Linked DNA regions of Homo sapiens: region 1 is linked to region 2. Evidence: fine-mapped expression QTL. A gene starts in region 2. The other region holds a variant in brackets. All regions are shown on one strand. Distances are from middle to middle. Region 1 overlaps MED27 (mediator complex subunit 27). Region 2 holds the start of MED27 (mediator complex subunit 27).

Region 1 (8,000 bases), 70 kb before region 2:
GTGGCCGTACCAAAGGCAATCTGTTGTTCAAACACTGGAAGCCCTAGGTGTGAGTGCTGTGTCATTATCCCTGTTACCTCCTGAATGGGTGGCACTTCCTTCCAGCAACACTTGTCACTGCATGCTGTTTTTGTGGTCTTATTGTTACTCAAACCTGAGAGGCAAGTCATCCAAGAATCGAAACGCAAAGTGAGGACTCTCTCTCTCTTGAAAGTATTACAAGATACTGAAACAAATGCAAACGCTGAGGAAATGGCACCAGTAAGCTCCAAAGAACATCGAAAAAATACTATTCAGCAATAAAATGGAACCAACCGCTGATACATGCAACATAAAGGAATCTCAAAAACATGTTGAGTAGAAGAAATCAGAAGGAAAATATTATGTTCTGCATGACTCCACTTATACAGAAGTTCCAGAAGAGGCAAAGCTAAGGTATAAGTATAGATATCAGAACAGTAGTTGCCTGGGGTGGGAGAGAAATTGGAGACAAGTATAATCCACCCTTTGGAGGAGTTTTGCTATAAAGAGGAGAGACACGAGGTGGGAGCTGGGAGGCAGAATGCAGTCATGGATGTGTGTTCTTACAGGAGACAGTTTTCAGGGTAAGCATGTTTTGTCTATGAATGAGAATGATCAGGAGAAAAGGGAAATAATTATGGTGTAGGACGGAAAAAGGAGACCAATGGAGACAAGGCCAGGAGTAGGTGAGAGGGATCCATCAGCAAGTAGATGGGCTGTTCTTAGCTTGGAGCACGAATAGCTCACCCCCAGGGACCACAGAGAACAAAGCCCGGGAAACAAGTATGCCCTTAATCAAGCAGACAGAATCTTTTCATGGAAGATAATATAATGCAAGAGAAACTGCCTGTCCCCACAACTTCCAGGGCATGGAGGTAATAGTTTTCAATGTAAGCTTTCTGAAAAACTATTTGTTTTCCCTCAAACCTAAATAAGATCTCGGTTTGCTGGATATGAACACAGTCACCTCTGCTGTTACTGAAAGCTGGCATTTCATCAGGCCAAGTTGTTGAAACTCAGAGGAGTGCTAGGCCATTCAGCCTGGCCATACTGATTGAAAGCAATATTCCATGTTAACACAAAAGCACACAACACTGCATTAGAAAATCGAGGCTGCTATCTAAGATAGAACACAGGTAAACACAGCTACATCTCTCAATAAATACATAGATATCTCAATATATAACTCATAGATCAATTAAATAAGATATAGCCACTCTCCAGGCTGATCCCAATCCTATGAGGCTCAGAAGCCCAACAATGTTTGCACAGCAACAGTGGACACAGCCTCTCAGCCTCTTTACGGAAACGATAGCACCCCTTGTGCAAAAACCTTAATTTGAGCATTTGGAAATCCTAGAAGTGAGGTCACTTCATCAGTGCCCTCTGAACGCTAACAAGTGATAAAATATCTTTCATCATGAACAAGATCTTTATCTTCTATCAAGCTTCTTTGGAGGGGGAGAAAGATATGAATCATTAATCCCATGAATCACTCATCCTATGGGAGCTCAGGGAGGAATCTGAGTCTTCAGAGACTACCGTTAGAGCCCTGCATTTTAAAAACAAACACATCGTACACAGCTCCTGCATTCCTGCCACGCCTGTGCTCTCTGCACAGTTGGGCAGAACTAGTAGTTTTGCTGTAGCAGCCTTAGTGCCATCCAACTGCTAACACAAGCCACGCAGAAACCTACCCATCACTGCACTAATACGCACAGGGTTGCAGAGAAAGGTGTGTGAGGAACCCAGACGCTAGCCCTTCACTGCTTTCCTCCACCGTTTAAAAACAAAACCTTTCCTTAGAATCCTGTAAGCCTATGCAAGAAAGCATCTAGCATTCTCAATGAAATAAGGCCCCCATCCTTCACAGCCAGCAGCAGATAAATCTGGTGAAGGGCGGCTGGGCTTCCCCAAGTGGACCTCCCTCCCCACTCTGCCCGTGGCCTTCTCAGGCACTGGAAGAAGGTCATGTCAGTCAACTTGGTCCATGTTGCTATGATGCTCTGCTCCTTGTTTGCTCCTATCTCTACTCAGAACTTCCCAAAAACCAAGATTATATCTTATTCATCTCCGAATCCCCAGCACAGTGCATAGAACCAAGCATTTGTAGGCCCTGAGTAAATATTTACTGAATAAATAAGTGAATGGGGTTTACAGGCTCAGCCATTGTTCCTGTGTGCGATGTGATGGTTTTAAAATAAATATGTCCACAAATTCTTTGACACGTCTTTCTTCAAAAGGGAGAGCCTCATCCCCTCCCCTTGCATGCCAGTCAAACTTCGTGACTCATTGCAAATGAACAGAATGGGGTAGAACTGACGCTGTGTGTCTTCTGAGATTAGGTCATAAAAAGGATGGCTGCTGCCTGGCTCTCATTCTCCTAGATTGCTGGCTCTGGAGGAGCCAGAAGCCATGTCATGAGGATATTCAAGCAGCCTGCGGAGAGGCCTAGGTGGAGAGGAACCGAGATCTCCTGCCAACGGCCAGCACCAACTTGCCTGCCATGTGAGTGAGCCACCTTGCAAGTGGAGCTCCTAATCCCAGCCAAACCTCAGGTGACTGCAGCCTTACAAGAGGCTCTGAGCCAGAACCACCCAAACGAGCCACTCCTGGATTCCTAATCCACAGAAACTGTGAGAGATAATGTTCATGGCTGTTAAAGCACTAAGTTTTAGAGCAATCTGTTATGAAGCAATAGATAATTAACATAGCAACCTTGGAGGATTTCGGTGTTTTATAAGGGGGTTGAAAGGATTTTCTTAATGACAAAAAGTTAGTTTATAGTTATGTTGTGCTTATAATAAAAATTTTGTTGATGGGGTTGTTTTTTCTTGTAAATTTGTTTGAGTTCTTTGTAGATTCTGGATATTAGCCCTTTGTCAGATGAGTAGATTGCAAAAATTTTCTCCCATTCTGTAGGTTGCCTGTTCACTCTGATGGTAGTTTCTTTTGCTGTGCAGAAGCTCTTTAGTTTAATTAGATCCCATTTGTCAATTTTGGCTTTGTTGCCATTGCTTCTGGTGTTTTAGACATGAAGTCCTTGCCCATGCCTATGTCCTGAATGGTATTGCCTAGGTTTTCTTCTAGGGTTTTTATGGTTTTAGGTCTAACATTTAAGTGGGTGAAGGATATGAACAGACACTTCTCAAAAGAAGACATTTACGCAGCCAACAGACACATGAAAAAATGCTCATCATCACTGGCCATCAGAGAAATGCAAATCAAAACCACAATGACATACCATCTCACACCAGTTAGAATGGCAATCATTAAAAAGTCAGGAAACAACAGGTGCTGGAGAGGATGTGGAGAAATAGGAACACTTTTACACTGTTGGTGGGACTGTAAACTAGTTCAACCATTGTGGAAGACAGCGTGGTGATTCCTCAGGGATCTAGAACTAGAAATACCATTTGACCCAGCCATCCCATTGCTGGGTATATACCCAAAGGATTATAAGTCATGCTGCTATAAAGACACATGCAAACATATGTTTATTGTGGCACTATTCACAATAGCAAAGACTTGGAACCAACCTAAATGTCCATCAATGATAGACTGGATTAAGAAAATGTGGCACATATACACCACGGAATACTATGCAGCCATAAAAAATGATGAGTTCATGTCCTTTGTAGGGACATGGATGAAGCTGGAAACCATCATTCTCAGCAAACTATCAGAAGGACAAAAAACCAAACACCACATGTTGTCACTCGTAAGTGGGAATTGAACAATGAGAACACTTGGACACAGGAGGGGGAACATCACACACCGGGTCCTGTTGTGGGGTGGGCGAAGGGGGGAGGGATAGCATTAGGAGATATACCTAATGTAAATGACGAGTTAATGGGTGCAGCACACCAACATGGCACATGTATACATATGTAACAAACCTGCAGGTTGTGCACATGTACCCTAGAACTTAAAGTATAATAAAAAAATTTTGTAATAAGGAGTCTTCTATAGAATACAACCAAAAGATGGATATTGATATGCAAATTTGAATAGTCCATAGATCAAATTATGCTCCCTTAAATGTCACAACTATATTCAATAAAAGGTTGAGATATGAAATAGAACAATACTATAATATACTCCTTTTTGGAGATTATTTTGCTTTTAAAACCTATTTATTGCTTTAAAAAAACTATTGCTTTTAAAAACTATATATGACATATGCACAGAAAAAGTCTAGAACAATATCCATCCTAATCTTAATAACTTTTTCAGATAACAAAAACATTATTTTTTAATGTTTTTGTTACCTTTTCAAAATCTACATTATGTATATACTATTATTGTTCTATTTCCTAGCTTAAAAAAGAAAAACAAAACTTTTTAGACAGGCAGCC[A/G]TGTTGCATTTCTAGCCAACATCAAACATAATGAGTGGCACATAGTAGGTGCTCAGTGGAAGTGCAATGGGGCGGGACGCAGTGGCTCACATCTATAATCCCAGCACTTTCAAAGGTCAAGGTGAGAGGATCATTTGAGCTCAGGAGTTTGAGGCTGCAGTAAGCTGTGATCATACCACTGCACTCCAGCCTGGGTGACAGAGGAAAAACATGCCTCTAAAAAGAAACAAAAAGGGGAGTTGGGGAGGCAATTGATGTCTTTTAGATATAGCTTCTGCCTACTGGACAGTAGTTCTATAAAGGGATTCCAGGATAATGTAAGCCCAAAAAGCTCAATGATGTGAAAAGGCAGCAGTCAATTTTCACAGGAAATAGGCTACTAAGTATAGGAAATCATTTCTATGTTGTATTCTTAGGACACAGTAACCACTTTTCTCTTTGAAACTATTTTGAGTGATTTATTATAAATTTATAATGACAGTTGTGAACACCTCTCGCTCTTTTTTTTTTTTTTTGGCATGAGAACAGTCTGTTGATTGCCCTAATGCCTAAAATAGTTTCTAAGTGTCCTCACAATAGCATGTCACCTGTAAACAGGTTTCAAGCCAATGCAAATTAACAAATGGTGAACAGATGGACTAAGAACTGACTTTTGTCAAGAGAGAGTTAGCAACAAATACTTTTTGGCTCCAGTCTTATGGGACCATTAGAAAGTCTTTTACTTCTCGCCAAACATCTTGCCTCAGTAGACAATCCATGCAGGGAAAATGACAAGTTACAAGGCCCATTAGACTTTAGAGAGCTGAAAGTTGAGATTTGCAGAATCACCAAATCGACACATGAGAAACAACAGATAGAATAATGGCCCTTAAGAAGCATTCTGCCAAATAGTCAAAACTCTGGCTTGCATCACTAAAAGCAGCTGTCCCTGTAGTGACCTTCTTTTTGAAAAATATGGCCCCTGTGCATGCAAGCAACAGACACAAGCTACTTGTCGAGGCTGGCTGGTTACATTCCTCCTATCCTGGAAGCAAGTGTGAACTGTGAAGAAAGCCTGAAAATCATGGAAGTGGTGGCATAAGAACGTCCACCAGCTAGAGAAAGGATCCCCAGAGCAGTCACCCCTTGGGATCCCCCCGGCTCTTCACTGGTCTTTCTCCTCCTCATTCGTCAAGTCTCTGCCTCATATTGGCTCCTCAGAGAAGCCCTCTTTGATCACCCTATTTAACAGTATCCCCCACTCCCATACCTTACCCCACTCTGTAGTCCCTTCCTAGCACTAAGCATAACTACAAATTATGGCGTTAATTTATTAATTTGTTGAGGGGTGCTTGTTTGGTCTCCTCCCACCCCCGAAATGAAAAGCTTAACAAAGATGGGACAATGTCTGTCCTGCCCATGTTTATATCCTTGGGGCCTAGAAACATGCCTGACACAGAGTAGGTACAATAAATATTTGCTAACCAAACAGCAAATGAGACCTTGAGCAAAGGTAAACAATCAACTCATATATGCCAACACTCCCTTGGACTAGAAAAGAATGCTGTTTGTAACTGAGGATGTAATCAGAAGAAGGTACAAGGGGTGAGCAGGACAGGCGAAGGAACGCTTCTCGGGCATCTGGCCCTCCCAGAGGAGTGTGCACACTGACAGGAAATGGACTGATGTGCCCACATTTCTCATTCCACATCACTGAGTGAGCCTTTGCACTCACCTACTAGGGCTTCTAATACAAAAGAACCCAACAGGTTGAACGAACCAAGTGGATGAATCAAATGTGGCATATTCAAAGGAAGACTACACTGCAACAGAAAAAGGACAACAGGATGAATCTAACACATATGATGTTGAGTGAAAAGAAGCTCATACAAAAAAATGACACTGCATGATTCCGTTTAAATGAAGTTCAAAGACAGGCAATATTAACTGTTTAAAGAAGTCAGAATGGTGTTAAACTTGGGAAGGAGGGCAGCACAGGTATAGACAGAGAGCAATGAGGAGGAACCCTTATGGGATTCTGGAAGTGGTGGCTACACGGATGTACATGAGTGTGAAAAAATCATTAAACTGTATGCTCTGTGAAGCTTACTGTATCTGTTATCCTTCCTAATGGGAAAAAGAAGAGCACATATATTACTATTTTTAAATGTGAACGAATGAACCTAGCATTTATTCTAATCTCAGCTCTAGCAGGTTCTCTAGGTGGTCTGCAGCTTAACCAAATGTGCTCCTCAGCTGTCTCATTTATAAAATAAGGACAACTGTACTCATATTCTACCACCTTTGGGAATGTGATAAGGAAACAAATAATAAGCCGTGAGGTCTCTTAAAATCCTAGGTGGAAAAGTCACATACAAAATATGTAAAATAAACTGCATTACAGCTGTTTCACAAAGATCTATGCAAATTATGTTACCATCATGCTTGGTTTCTAATCCTAATAGATGCCTTTTTAAAAGAAAGAAATAATTCTGGGCCGGGTGTGGTAGCTCATACCTGTAATCCCAGCACTTTGGGAGGCCGAGGCAGGTGGATCACCTGAGGTCAGGAGTTCGAAACCAGCCTAGCCAACACAGTGAAACCCCATCTCTACTAAAAATACAAAAATTAGCTGGGCATGGTGGTGTGCGCTTGTAATCCCAGCTACTTGGGAAGCTGAGACACGAGAATTGCTTGAACTCGAGGGGGTGGGGGAGGGCAGAGGTTGCAGTGAGCCGAGATCATGCCACTGCATTCCAGCCAGGGTGAAAAAGTAAGACTCCGTCTCAAAAAAAGGAAGGGAGGGAGGGAATTTTGAAGAAAACAGTAACTTTCCACTACCCAAAAACAAGTATAAAGTAAAAAAGTTCACCCAGTACTAAAGTAATTTTTCAAATCCATCACTCACTGAGGTGGTAGGACAAGAGTTGTGGGCTGAGCCTTTGGTCTACGTTTGGCAGATACTCCCATCTGATTAGCGGAACGCTTCAATGACTGCTGATTTAAAAGGCCAGATGCTAGTCCTGCATGGTACTGCAACTGCAGAGAAAAACAAAACAAAAGGGGAAGAAAAATAGCATTTGGTAAAAGTAGGACAAATGGTATTAAACTAGCAATGCTTGATAATCTTATCCCCTTAGAACATTTTAAGTAACTTCAAATACAACTGCTCACATTCTGCTTCAAGGAATTTACCCATAAAAAGATAATCAGACAAACAGGAAACAAAACAAGAACAAGACTGTTCATCACAGCATTACCTCATGATGAAAAACTGGAAGCAGTCGGAATGTCCAACAACTGACTGTGAAATTGATTAAAATAGAGAAAGAACTTCACAACACCATTTTGTTGAATTAAAAGAAAAAAGGTTCCATTGTAAACAGAGAGGCACTTTAAAAAATGTTCTCTAAAATGCTAACTGTATTTTTCAGTAGTAGAATTCGAGTGATTTTTACTTTCTTCTTTATTTTTGACTACTATTCATATGCTTTATGTAAATGGTTTTAAAGCCTACGTAATTTTTTAATAAGAAAATCCAGAGGTTTTCCTTAGAGACAAAGTTAGTTCTGGGAAGTCTTGCTACCACCATATCTTGCTTATAATAAAAACCATAGAATTTGTAGTCTACCGCAGTACACC
Region 2 (8,499 bases):
CCAATCAACAAAAAAAGCCCATACACACATGTACGCCACACCACATAGCACCCAAACAAAAGGAACTTGTTAGTAAACAAACGAACCGTTTCCAGATTCATGAGCCTAATTGTTTCTGTTATTTTTCAGCTACAGTTTAGTTTGCAACTTACAGCTGTCCTAGGGTCTCTGCCACAGGCCTGCCTGCTGAAAGAAACCATGAATATCAAACTCTACAGAGCATGTTAAGAACAATCTCCCTTAGGTGGCATCTAAGTAATTAGAGAGTCATCTAACAAACGGTATTCTAGTGATGCTCATCCATCTGTGACAGAGGAAAAGACAATACAAGAACATAATGTGCGCAGCTAAACATTTAGACACCTCCTGGGGGCCACAGATTCCTCTGCGAACCTGACAAAAGCTAGGAAGCCTTCCCTAGATATACATGCACATACCACAACATACTGCATATAATTTTAAGGGGTTCATAAGAGTTGCTCCCTATACCCAGTCTCCAGGTTAAATACACCTGAGTTAGAATTTTTAACATGTAATCACCTGAACATCATGAATCCCCAAAGACTTCAAAGGACTACAAAATAGGTTACAGAAAAATTCTACAACTTCCAACTCTATAACCCCATGCTGAATCAAGAACATAAAAAGCAATAAAAACATACTCTTGCTTTCTGCATGTATGGAATATAAGAAAACTTGGTTTTCCATATATTAGCTCCGTTTATTACATCTCCCTTACCTTGTTTGACCACTTATATGCTTGAAGGAGTTGACTATAGAGAGGAGTTTTGTCCTGCACAGGATCCAGGCTTAACAGCCCACTGTTATGAAGAGGATGGTTCTCAGATGGCTTGCCTACCAGATTGCTCAGACGTTCCAGCTCACTGAAAAGCAAAGAGACAAGGCAAATAAACCTAAGCCCATTTACACTCCAGGGTAAAGCCAGCCCCCAGGATCAAAGACTGCTCTTCAAACCATCCATCAGAAGTCCCTTAAGAAGAAATACTTTTTGAAAGGTTAAAAAATACTTGGGACACTTAAAAAAAAAAACCCTAAATGAGAGTTTATCTGACTTTAAAACAGAGCTTCTGGTGCCATTCCAAAGGAGGAAAAAAAAGGTAAGGGCAGTAGAATCAATAAGACCCCCATAATCAGAAATTAACAACTCAAATTCATCCCTGCAGTGGGGAGGAGACTTTCTGGAATTTTGAAATGTGGTATAACACTGCCTCTCACTAAGAGTTTTCAGACCCACGTGCAGATCATTACACTTGGCAGAACAGCAAGTACCTGATTAAATGATGATTATTTATCATTCACATAGGGATAGATTTGTACATGATGCTTCACAGATGGTAAAACTTAACAAAACAAAGAAGAGATAAAATAAACAAATGGAATGGGAAGACACCACTGAGGTGGCTGTGTCAAACAAACACACTTCAGTCTAGCAGGAAAACCCTAGAGAAGCTTGGGAAAGCGAGCCAACAAGAGCACATTCCAGGAGTACGTTCTGAGGGGCCAGTCCCAAACTGCCAACAAAAGACTCTCTAGGAACAGCTTCTTATGCCACATTCATTTTGGAATCATCAGCCACCTTCTTCTTGGCACTACTGTACAAAGATTTAAGAAGGCAAAAGGATAATGTCAGCACTCTTAAAGTTTCTATTTAAAATGGTGAAGGGTTATAATATCCTGAACATTACAAAGGGAAGTAACTCGGAGAGAAAATGGAAAGAAAACAGAAGATAGGGAAGAATAGCCAGTGCATCCCCTGAAGCAGAGAAAGTATTAACTGGTGCTCGGCGCGGTGCCAGAGAACAGCAAGCGGATGTGGGCGTTGAGGAGGGCTGTGTGATTTACGGCAACTACTTAGGGGGAAAACAAAAAGGCACCCATCATTTGGCCACCTCCTCCTCCTCCTCCTCCATCCTACCTCCTCTTTCCATCTGGTTACTAAGGAGACCAAGTTGAAAAAACAAAAATCCAACCAGTCCAGAAATCAAAGGATGACTAGCTCACCAAATGCTTTCCCCTACTCAGGTCAGTTCTGAGAAGTAAAAGGCAAAAATCCTGAAATTCTAACCTTCCTGGGAAGGACTGACTCTCTTATAAAACAGAAGGCAAGTTCAGGACCTAAGCAATCAAGAAGTGCCTACTATGTGCCAGGCCCTTTACAAACATCCTCTCATTTAATTCTTACAACACTTAAAAAGTGTAAGTGAAGAAGGTACTTTGTAAGGAAGAGGAGGAAAAGTGGAATCCTTAACCCTAAAAGACTACAAATTAAGAAGCAGGGGCGTTAAGCATAAGTAATTAAACTGGTTAAGAGATTAGAGAGTAGGTCTCTACTGCGGAAGGAACTCCCACAGGAGTGGGAGTGAGGAAACTGATCAGGTGGTTTGGGAGCGGTTAGGGGAAAAGGTGAAGACAGCTCAAGGCCTGGCCGGTCCGTCGTGGTTGCGGGTGGGTGGTGGTGGAACTGATGAAGTCCAAGTTCAGGGCCGGGGAATTGGGGCTAATCAGATCGGGTGCACTTGGGTTTGGAGCCGACTGACCAGGTCCTGTCTGTACTATTACTACATTCGGATCAGACGTGATGGGGCACAGAGGGCCTACAGGTGAGAAACCTGCCAAGCTCAGAGAAGTGGAAGTTCATGGGAAAAGCATGCCTCCTTGTTAGGAATGGAACCGCCACAGAAGAGGTCGAGGATGGCGGAAGACAAACAGGACCAGGAGGCCAGGAGAAGCAAGACGAGAAAGCGGGGATGGTGTTAAGATGTCCCTGAGGGACAGGCAGAGGCTTGGAGAACAAGAAGAGAAAGAACAGGGATCAAGGGAAACGGAGAACAGCCCCTGCCTGGGAAGACTCGAGCGACGTAGGGGCAGGGTCGGAGCGGGGCCGGTCCCCGACCCCGGCCCCTTCAGCCGGTACCTACTTGAGGTCCCGGTTGACCGAATGTAAGTTGTCCTGGAAGTGCGCAATAAAGGCCTTCTCCCGGCCCTCCAGCGTCTCCTTGTTCCGCATCCCATCCTTCAGGCAGTCGAACACCCTGCTCACGCTGGAGCGCAGCGCCTGGATGGCACTAATGGCCTGGGAAAAGGCCTCCAGGTTCACACTGACATTTATCACGTCCGCCATGTTGCCGCCGCCACAGCAGCTCTCCAAAGCCGGCTTCGCAAGCAAAAAAGCCGCGCTCGCTGATGACGTATCTCCGAAGACCTCTGGGAAATGCAGTTCGCGCGGGGCTACCCAGAAAGCACTTTCGAAAAAGGGTTTCCCCTTGAGCTAAACTAATGCATGGGCAGGAAAGTGATTTTTCTCAACTTGGGGAAGTCAGGTTGCACTCCCGGTTTGCTTAATGGTGACAAAGAAATACAGAAAGTTCCCGCATTTCCCCAAACTTGCACTCTGGGGAATCATAGGGAAAAGAATTGCTCAGAGCAATAGTGTAAAAAGGAAAGGAACATAGCCCATTCAATAAAATGAGTCCATATTCATAAATAAAGCGGGGAGAAGGAAAGTTTCTTCTTTCCAATAGAATGCCAGCTCATAAATGCAGAAAGAGTGATGGAATTAGAAAATTGCCATTTGACAGCCATTAGAATAATTGATTCAGATAGAAATCGATGGATGCTAAAACTAGTGGGTGAAAGTGTCAGAAAAATAACAGGCTTTTTAGGTAATCTCAAAGTATCGTCCCCCAAGATGCTTATTAATTAAGAAGAGGAAAATAATGATCCAGAGATTCCACTTCTGGGCATATACCCAAAAGAAGCGAAAGCAGGGACTCAATACCTGTACACATGTTCATAACAGCATTATTCACCAAATAGCCAAAAGGCAGGGGAAACCCAAGTGTCCATAAACTGATGAATAAACAAAGTGTGATACTGGCATACAATGAAAAATTCTTCAGGCTTAAGCAAGAAAATTCTGACATATGCTACCTGGAGGAAACTTGAAGACATTATGCTAAGTGAAATAAGCCAGTCACAAAAAAACAAAATTCTGTGTGACTCCACTTATATGAGGTGTTTAGGGTAGTCAAAATGTTAGAGACAGAAAGTAGAATGGTGGCTGGTTTACAGTGAACACACACCTCTGAAAATAACATACATAGCATAGAGGTTGTGGAAGAAAGAGAAGGTTTGGGATTTAAATAAAACCAACAAAATGTTGGCCAAATCTGGCTTTATGGAAAAATTCAATGTCTCTTTGTCCTGTTGGCTATAGACAGGTTTCTGAAAATTTATTATCTTTTTACTAAAGGGAACCTGCCCAAGTCCTCATGTTCTTTCCTTAGAGGAGCTGGGGTTGCATAGCTTGGAGCAGAGAAGAGGAGAGCAGGAGGCAGATCATGATTGTGACCTTCAACTCACCTTCATGTCAACCCAAGACAAGAGTCCTCCTTGGTTAACTAGTGGCAATAACAATAACCAGTTGTAGGAAGGCTGTAGAGAGGAAGATTTCAGCATAATATTGCAAAGGGCCATATTTAAGTCTGTACTTAAAGAGTACAGACTTGGAAAAGTTTTACAGCTGGATGGTGGTGATGGCCATACAACAATGTGATTGTACTTAATGCCACAGAACTGGACACTTAGAAACAGTGAAAATGGTTGATTTTATATTATGTATATTTTACCAAAAAATTTTAAACAATTCATTAATGTAAACATAAGGGGGGATGGATAGTGACTTAATAGTGACTTCACAGTGGAGAAACATGGCAGACACCAGCTTAACCAAAAGGCCAAGGTCAACATCACCAGTGACGGGACATGTTGTGCACCTCCTGATACAATGCACTGGAAAGAGCACAACATGACCTCCATGATATTCTTGCCAGCAGTGCATAACCTGAATCTAATCAGGACATCAATAGAACTCAAACTGAAAAACGTGACAAAATAACTGACTGACCTATACTTTTTCAAGAAATATCTGTGTCAGGCCATACACTGTGGCTCACACCTGTAATCCCAGCACTTTGGGAGGCCAAGGTGGGTGAATCATTTGAAGTCAGGAGTTCGAGACCAGCCTGGCCAACGTGGTGAAACCCCATCTCTACTAAAAAGACAAAAAATTAACTGGGCGTGGTGGTGGGCACCTGTAATCCCAGCTACTTGGGAGGCTGAGGCAGGAAAATTGCTTGAACCTGGGAGGTGGAGGTTGCAGTGAGCCAAGAGTGCATCATTGCACTCCAGCCTGGGCAACAAGAGCAAGACTCAGTCTCAAAAAAAAAAAAAAAAATTACATATATATATATATATATGTCTGTGTCACGAAAGACATGAAGGTTGAGAAATTCTTCCAGATTAAAGGAAACCAAAGAGCTGTGACAACTGAGGGCAATGTGTGAGCTAGGATCTTCTTTTGCTGATACAACTGGGACAATTGGTGAAATCCGAGTAAGATCTGTAGATGAGTTAACAGTATTTTATCAGTGATTGTATTGGTCTGTTCTTGAACTGCTATAAAGAAATACCTGAGACTAGGTAATTTGCAAAGAAAAGAGGTTTAACTGGCTTATGTTTCTGCAGGCTGTACAGGTACCATGACTGGAGAGGCCCCAGGAGGCTTTCAATTATGGGGGAAGGTGACAGGAAGCAGGCGCATCTTACATGGCTGAAGCGTGAAAGAGGAGGAGGTGCCACACACTTTTAAACAACCAGATCTCGTGAGAACTCACTCACTATCACGAGAACAGCAAGGGGGGAATCCACCTCCATGATCCATCCGCCTCCATGATCCAATCACTTCCCATCAGGCCCCTCCTCCAACACTGGGGATTACAATTTGACATGAGATGTGGGTGGGACATAGAGCCAAACCATATCATTGATAATTTCATGATTTTGTTCATTGTACTGTGGTTATGGAAGAGGATGTCTTTGTTTTGGGGGAAATACACCCTGAAGAGAAAAAAGATCATCATTATGTCTACATGAAAAAGAAAATAAAATGAATATGTTTATTTAGAGAGAGAAGGCGAAAGCAGATGTGGTAAAATGTCAACAGACACGGAATCTGGGTGAAGGGTATACAGGAATACTTTGTATTATTCTTGCAAGTATGAAATTATGTCAAAATAAGTTTGTTTTTGTTTTTTTTTTTTGAGACGGAGTCTCACTCTTTCGCCCAGGCCTGACTGCAGTGGAGCTATCTCAGCTCACTACAAGCTCTGCCTGCCGGGTTCACGCTATTCTCCTGCCTCAGCCTCCCGAGTAGCTGGGACTACAGGCGCCCGCCACCGCGCCCGGCTAATTTTTTGTATTTTTAGTAGAGACCGGGTTTCACCGTGTTAGCCAGGATGGTCTCGATCTCCTGACCTTGTGATCCGCCCACCTCGGCCTCCCAAAGTGCTGGGATTACAGGCGTGAGCCACCGCGCCCGGCCAATAAGTTGTTTTAAATGGCCATCCAGGCCAGGCGTGGTGGCTCATGCCTGTAATCCCAGCACTTTGGGAGGCCAAGGCGGGAGGATCACCTGAAGTCGGGAGTTTGAGACCAGCCTGACCAACGTGGAGAAACCCTGTCTTTACTAAAAATACAAAATTAGCCGAGCGTGGTGGCACATGCCTGTAATCCCAGCTACTAGGAAAGCTGAGGCAGGAGAATCGCTTGAACCCTGGAGGCGGAGGTTGCGGTGAGCCGAGATCACGTCATTCCACTCCAACCTGGGCAACAAGAGTGAAACTCCGTCTCCAAAAAAAATAAATAAGTAAGTAAATAAAAAGGCCATCCTTAAGAGGCAGGGAAAGTCTAAACCACCGTCTAGGTGGTAAGAAAAATCTTCAGTTCAGCCAGACTGTGCTGACAAGGATTTTGAAATTGGGTAGTTCACCTCAGTTCCACCTCCTTAATAATTCCCCACTTCCCGGCCAAGTGCGGTGGCTCACGCTTGTAATCCCAGCACTTTGGGAGGCCGAGGAGAGCAGATCACTCGAGGTCAGGAGTTCAAGACCAGCCTGGCCAACATGGTGAAACCCCGTCTCTACTAAAACATACAAAATTTAGCCGGATGTGCACAAAACTTAGTCTGGCGTGGTGGCACGTGCCTGTAATCCCAGCTACTCGGAAGGCTGAGGCAGGAGAATCGCTTGAACCCAGAAGGTGGAGGTTGCAGTGAGCCGAGATCGTGCCACTACACTCCAGTCTGGGCGACAGAGCCAGACTCTGTCTCAAAAAAATTCCCCACTTCCTCCCAGCCTGACCGCACCACCTCGGTTCAAATCCTCTAGTTCTGGAAACACAAAGATGAATTCTGCTAAGAAACTGGACCCCGACAAACCAACTATTAAACACTATTTAAATTAATTGTCTCTTGCAAGAAAGCTGTTTTGTCTTGAGATTATATAGTTGCTTCCATTTCCTGACATCTAGCTCACCTTTACAATGTGGTCATTTATAGCTTTTCTTAAGGGAAGGGATGAAGATAACAGGAAACTTCTAGCTGTGGAGCTTTAACAAGTTATTGAACCTCCCTGAATCTGTTTCCTTGTCTGTAAAACAGACTGGTAATAATACCTATCTTCATAAAATAGCTGTGAGGTTTAATAACACCTTGCAGGTGAAGCTTTTGAAATAATGCTTGGTAGATAATAAACGCTCAGAAGAGCATAGCTGTTAGGAGAAGGTGTCTGTGAATTATGCTTCTCATCCCACTGAGAATTCTTTACATAGACTCAAGCAAGGATTAGCAATGGGATTATTAGTTCAAATTATCTCTAATGACATGATCTTGTTGCTAATAGCTGGTCAATGAATTTTATCCCATAATTCACTATATTTGGTGGTTTTTTTGTTTTTGTTTTTGTTTTTGTTTTTGTTTTTGAGATGAGTCTCGCTCTGCTGCCCAGGCTGGAGTACAGTGGTGCAATCTCAGCTCACTGCAACGTCCGCCTCCCAGGTTCAAGCAATTCTCCTGCTCAGCCTCCCAAGTAGCTGGGATTACAGGGGCACGCCACCATGCCCTGCTAGTTTTTGTATTTTTCGTAGAGATGGGATTTCACCATGTTGGCCAGGCTTGTCTCCAACTCCCAGCCTCAGGTGATCCGCCCGCCTCTGCCTCCCAAAGTGCTGGGATTACAGTCGTGAGCCACCGCCCCTGGCCTTGGTGGCCTTTTTGTCACCTTTGGAATGTAGGGGTAAGGCTTTTTCCTAAGGTTTTGGTAGAAAATATTTTTTAACTTTACAAAAGTAAAGGAAGTAAAAGTAAAGAGAAATATCTTTGTTCGTTGGCTTGTTTTGGTTTTGGCTTTGGTTTGTTCATTCTTTCTAGGAAAAGAGTAGAGGAGGCAAATTCTATTATCTTAGGTACTTACCTTTTGGGGGTTCCTGAAGGATTAGAAAATGTGACTCATGTGGTATATTTTGTCCCCAGGAAAAAAAAAAGTACCAATCTATTTCTACCCTCACCCACATATGCCCATAAACATGAGATTTTATGTACAATTTCAGGGGGTTCATAGCACCACCCTCCAAAGCCCAAAC

What was found. PIP is the estimated chance that this variant, and not a neighbour inherited with it, causes the effect. A credible set is the group of variants that fine-mapping cannot tell apart.
Region 1: its variant is the best candidate, but not a certain one, in a credible set for the expression of MED27 in whole blood (TOPMed, PIP 0.56).

Annotation. Positions count from the first base shown.
Region 1 is chr9:132,007,071-132,015,070 of GRCh38, forward strand. MED27 (mediator complex subunit 27) reads right to left here. Exons shown (of 8, transcript NM_004269.4): 3 at 7,267-7,397. Among named protein-coding and RNA genes, the nearest start is that of MED27, 69 kb to the right of the region's middle. RefSeq lists enhancers at 1-486, 282-391. The variant A/G (reference allele first, on the strand shown) is at 4,380.
Region 2 is chr9:132,076,703-132,085,201 of GRCh38, forward strand. It overlaps MED27 (mediator complex subunit 27), which reads right to left and starts at 3,165. Exons shown (of 8, transcript NM_004269.4): 1 at 2,940-3,165; 2 at 740-884. The coding sequence starts at 3,142. RefSeq lists enhancers at 1-138, 3,062-3,341.